Regions from separate parts of the Homo sapiens genome. Here region 2 is linked to region 1. Evidence: fine-mapped expression QTL. A gene starts in region 1. The other region holds a variant in brackets. All regions are shown on one strand. Distances are between the middles of the regions.

What was found.
Region 2: its variant is fine-mapped to the expression of LIPH in whole blood (TOPMed, PIP above 0.99).

What each region holds. Positions count from the first base shown.
Region 1 is chr3:185,551,162-185,554,089 of GRCh38, reverse strand. It overlaps LIPH (lipase H), which reads left to right and starts at 1,502. Exons shown (of 10, transcript NM_139248.3): 1 at 1,502-1,667. The coding sequence starts at 1,619. RefSeq lists an enhancer at 1,413-1,492.
Region 2 is chr3:185,736,606-185,739,533 of GRCh38, reverse strand. The region is part of intron 2 of IGF2BP2 (insulin like growth factor 2 mRNA binding protein 2); the gene reads left to right. Among named protein-coding and RNA genes, the nearest start is that of IGF2BP2-AS1, 25 kb to the right of the region's middle. The variant G/A (reference allele first, on the strand shown) is at 1,641.

The sequences.
Region 1 (2,928 bases):
GTGATCCTCCCACTTCAGCCTCCTTAGTAGCTGGGACCACAGGTGCACTAAAGAATGTCTGTATTTTTTTTCAGAGATGGGTTTTTGCCATGTTGCCCAAGCTGGACTGGAACTCCTGGGCTCAAGCGATCCACCCCCTTCAGCCTCCCAAAGTGCTGAGATTACAGGCATGAGCCACCGCGCCCAGCATATTAATGTTTTTTATTATTTTTTATTTATTTATTTTTTTTGAGACGGAGTCTCGCTCGGTTGCACAGGCTGGAGTGCAGTGGAGCGATCTTGGCTCACTGCAAGCTCCGCCTCCCAGGTTCACGCCATTCTCCCGCTTCAGCCTCCCGAGTAGCTGGCAGGCGCCCGCCACCACGCCCGGCTAATTGTATTTTTAGTAGAGAGGGGGTTTCACCGTGTTAGCCAGGATGGTCTCGATCTCCTGACCTCGTGATCCGCCCGCCTCGGCCTCCCAAAGTGCTGGGATTACAGGTTTGAGCCACCGCGCCCGGCTTATTAATTGATTTTTAAGCTCATCAGACCACTAGAAGCCTGAGTTAGTGTTGCAAGCACTCTCGCCAGAAAGGGAATTAAATTACCTTGGAGCTATGAAGCACAAGTTTAGTTACCTCTATCCCTGAGATACATAGATTCTGGCATGGGGTTCTATTTGAAAGTTTTTCATTTATTTTTCCTTTTTATTTATGTATTTATTGTTTGAGACAGTCACTCTGTCGCCCAGGCTGAAGTGCAGTGATGTGACCTGGACTCATTGCAACCTCTGCCTCCCGGGTTCAAGCAATTCTTGTGCCTCAGCCTCCTGAGGTAGCTGGGATTACAGGTGCGTGTCACCACACCCGGCTAATTTTTGTAATTTTAGTAGAGACGGTTTCGCCATGTTGGCCAGGCTGGTCTCAAACTCCTGACCTCAAGCAGTCCACCCGCCTCAGCCTCCCAAAGTGTTGGGATTACAGGCGTGAGCCACCGTGCCGGCCTGTTTTTCTTTTTTAAAAAAGACCTATTAGAGCTGTAGAAATTCTCGGTAGGAAGAAATACAAATAAAGATATATAATACCAAAAAAAGTTTCTTTTAATCTGAAGCATACATATATTTTGGCAAATGTAGATGTATAATTGGACCTAATGAAATGTTCTTAAAATCTAAAGACTGCCCTATGATGAATGAGTGTATGAATTAACATAAAAACTGGTTTTGTATATACAGGCCAACAGATACAAACTGGATTTGTTATTTCATTCACAAGAACCAAGGGGAAAAGATCTCAAGTCACACTTGGTTTCAACACACCAAGCCAAACAACTAATAAACCGCCCACGAAGAATGAAACTATTCTGAACTCGTCATTCTGCAGATGCAGATTATAATATTAAGATATGCACAAAATTGTATAAAGTAGACAATGAGTGACCTTTTATTGAAAAGAGGAGGAGTCAAAGATCCTGAAAGGGTTGGGACTGCCTGCAGTCAGTCCCTAGGGAACTTCCTGTTGTCACCACACCTCTGAGTCGTCTGAGCTCACTGTGAGCAAAATCCCACAGTGGAAACTCTTAAGCCTCTGCGAAGTAAATCATTCTTGTGAATGTGACACACGATCTCTCCAGTTTCCATATGTTGAGATTCTACTTATTCATCAGTTTGTTGTGCTTGTCAAGATCAGGTAGGTTATTTACAAACTGGTTTTCTTAACTGCTTAAAAAATAGAATTAGTTGTGTTGTCATTTTGCATGTCATCATTCCACTTCCTTCGGTGAACTTAAGTCCATAGAGTCGTTTTTAAGGAAAAAGATATAGGAAGCCTGTATCATTTCCTTAACATTTCCTTAAAAAAAAAAAAAAAAGATACAGGTTAGATGAACTTTCTCATCCTGAAAAAAATTTCTCAATAATAAAAGAAGCTATTATGTCTTTGAATTAATTTCTTCTTATTTACAACAATCAAATATGCTGAAAAATCTAGAAGTCTTATTTTCTTTCTTAGCCTATTTATCTGTGCCTTTCTAGTTCTGTGAAATGAGATGATTTATTTTCTGGAAATATAAAAATCTATCTTATATTTAATATATCAAGGGTTGGTTTTTATATTTTCATGCATTGAGAGTTTATTTAAATTATTCTTAGAGAAAACATAATTTTATATAGATAAACTCCTTGGAATGGTTCCTGGCATTCTTATAACTTAAAAATTATTAATCATAATGAAGAAATCAAAATTAAAACCCTAATGTACCAGATAATGTAACAAAAATAAAGTGAAATGCTTAAAAAAATAAAATTCAACACTTTGCAACCTTTTTAGGTATTCAGTTTTGTTTCAGATAGCTGTGGTAATGAAGGTTGATATAATTTTTTTGAAGGGCAAAGGGTAAATATGTTATATATTAAGACTTGTAAAAATGTTCATATACTTTAAGCTAGTAAAACCATTGCTGGGAATTTATTCTAAATGCATAACTTTTAAAAGAAAAAAGCCTCCTATGCAGAGATAAGTCTAACTATATTACTTGCAATAACTTGAAACTAGATATAACCAAAATGTTTCTACATACAGGAATGGATAAAAGACAGTATATCAACTTAATTTTTTTAAAGTAGCCTTTCAACTGATTCTGATGATATGCAGAAATAAGCAAACATTTTTAAAGTAATGCAAAGTAGAAAAAGTAGAACTTAAATTTGTTGGTAAACTATAATTACAACTATGTTAAAATCATGTATGTATGCATATGTGAATGAAGTTTAGAAGGGAAATGGAAAAATAGTATTAGGATTTCTGGCCTATAAATTTTTCTTTATATATGGTTTTGAAGTTGATTTTCTAGTAAGTTAAAATCATACCAATGATGATATTTTTAACTGAGAACTCGATATTTTAAAGTATATGTTTATTATTTTTTTTGTTTGTTTTTGAGATGGAGTCT
Region 2 (2,928 bases), 190 kb before region 1:
GATTCCTGAGGAGCCAGGAGAAAGCCAGGCTGTCATTTAGATTCAAGGGAAGATCTATTTGCCTTTTGATAACAGAAGGGTTTAGGAAGACATTTGAGCCATACGGCACAATTTGAAGGACTTAGTTTAAAAGAAAATAATTGACAGAGTAATTGGAATGCTATCTTTTTACAGTTTATAAAGAGGCCCCTTTGTATGTGTTTTTCTGCCAATTCTGTTTAAATGCCCTGCAATTTAAACACACTGAGGATTAGAGACCAGCAGTGATGTTTGGGCTTTGAAAATTCCAGGACAGGTTAGAGGCTTGTAACCTAGTACAGTTGCAATGGCCGTTTCGTTTTGTTTTAAGTCCACCGTTGTAATCCCTATTCCACAAGAGTATATTTTTCAGAACGCTGCTAAATCCCAGACATGGATATTTATATATGCCACCAAAGATATGTGAAAACACATATAAAAGGGCAGCTTTTAGGAATATTTTTATTATTTGAAAATTGATCTGATGTCATTAATCATTTCTTGTGCTATTTTTTAAACTGGGTTTTGTGACTTTTTTTGTAGCTCCAATTGATTTAATTTTGTAGGAGTGGAAAGGAAAGTTATTCATCTTAACTTATAGATATTCCCACTTTACCTGAGAAAGTATTTAAGGATCTTTAAGGATTAAAGGTCCTCTTCAAGCTTGACAATCTAAGTTTTAAAGTTTGTATTTAGCAAAATTATTGTTTAATACTTGTTTTTATAAAACAGCATTCTCTGTGAAGGAAGCAGCAGTGATCTTGTGCCCTTTGTTGGATGAAGTACCAGGAATATTTTCTGATTGCTTTCTCCAGGGACAGAAATGCAACTGTAAATGATAGAGATTAAAACAATAAAACTGCCCAGTGAGGCTTAGCCCTGAATTGCTAAACCTTCATATAATAAAACATTTTCTGAGAGAGGATGGTAGTGGCTGCAAAGACCAACAACTGGTTCCTCTGCCTGGATTCATCTCTTTCGTTCTCCCCTCTCTGGTTAAGACTTGCTCATCCTTCAAAACCCAGCTCGGATATTGCCACCTCCCTGAAGCCCTTCCTGACTCCCCTAGGCTGTTCCTGCCTCCGTCTTCTGTGTTGCTTTTATACTTTTCATGTTCTCAAGGAAGGACCTCTGCCCACAGTGCTCTATAATTAGTTCTGTAATTATTAGTGTTTATCTTTTACACTAGATTATGAGCCCTTTAAAGGCAGGATCTGGGACTATTTCATCTTTGTGGTTTAACCCCCAGTTTTATTGCCTGGAAAATAATAGGCACTCAGTTAATGTCTTTTGAAGTACTAAAGATTCTGTTGAATACTTACCACAAGGCGACATCAAAATAGATAGCAAGTGAGGATACTTAATCTTGGTAGAAATGAATTTATTTTAGATTTTTTCATGCCTTTATTTATGAATTCTAAAAGCAATTCATTAGATTTGGAATAAAGATAATATCCAGTGTTGGCAATGGCCTGGTAATACACTGTTAAACATTGGCAGTGAGGGTAGAAATTGGCACACTCTTTCTGGGAAACTATTTGGAAATTTGAGGCCTAAATATGGTCACACCCTTTGACCTAGTAATTCTGTTTCTCAGAATCTACTCTAAAGAAATAATAAGA[G/A]ATCACCACAATGTTATAAAGCATAATCCAAGAGACAGCAGGAACAGCTTCCTGATATTCTGTGATCCAAACCAAGTACTGAGTGTCTAAGAACTGGGGATGACCATCATAACTTCTCGAGGTCTTTGCTTCATGTTCTCCCACATTGTCTAGTCTGTCTTCTTGTGTAGAGTAGAAGTTAAGTAAATACTTGTAGTAAATGGATAAATAATTCTTTGAAGTTGAAATGTAAAGCACTCAATGTATAGAATAATGTAACTGTTACTGCGAATGCCACTATCAGATTTAACAAGTTATTTGACATACTTGTTTCCAATTTTTTTGTTTATGTTTTTAATATTGTGCAAATACTATATGCACACATTCTTTGTGCACATTTACTTTATAATCTGCAAAGTGATTTTATATTTTATACTCTCTTTTGATCAAGCCAAAAAAGGTGTTACTCCCATGTTATAAAAGGGAAAACTGAGGCTTGGAGCAGATCCAGGACTAGAACTACCACTTTTGACTCCCAGTCCAATATTTTTTCACAGTAGGAGTCTTTGGAGAACTCTTAGGAAACAAGGAGCACCTAGAATGTTTATTAAGGGAGGGTGTACATCAGCTCCAGAAAGATGTTGACAGATTGGAAGGAATTTAAAGAGGAGCCAACGCTGCTGGAAGGAAGGACATAGGAGAGATGAAAGGAATTTAATATGTATAGCTTGGCCAACGGATGATTAAAGGGGATATGATAACAGTCCCTAGGAATGTGAAGGATGTAAACATCATGGAAAGAGAAAATGTATTTAGAATCAATCAAAGCAGTATATAAAAAGAAATACAAATTAATGCGAAACATCACAAAAAGCCATTTTCATGGTGACACTTGTTAGCTTGTAAATTAGAGTCCCAAGACAAGTATCAAAAGCCCTTCTAAGACATTTAGGACTAAGTTATTCTGCCTAGATTTGGGGAGGGCTGTTCCATTTCTAATTTTGATGGCTGAGATCATGTCCCTTCCTAGCATAGATTTGCCACCCAGTACTGATGGCACAGTTTTGCGTATCAGGGTCAAAAGGAAAACTCTTGTTACAATCTGTGGAAGCCAAATTCAGGCATGTCCCCAACATTGTGCAGTCCGACATCGCAGAGACTGCCCGTGAAGCCTAACTTGAAACCCTAAGTGTTGAGCTCATTAACTCTGCCATCAGATGACTGATTCCCCACCTGCATGGTGTCCCCTGCTGGGAATTTCAGGTTGTGAGCAAGATGCAGAGATGTTCTCTTATTGTTTAATTCACGG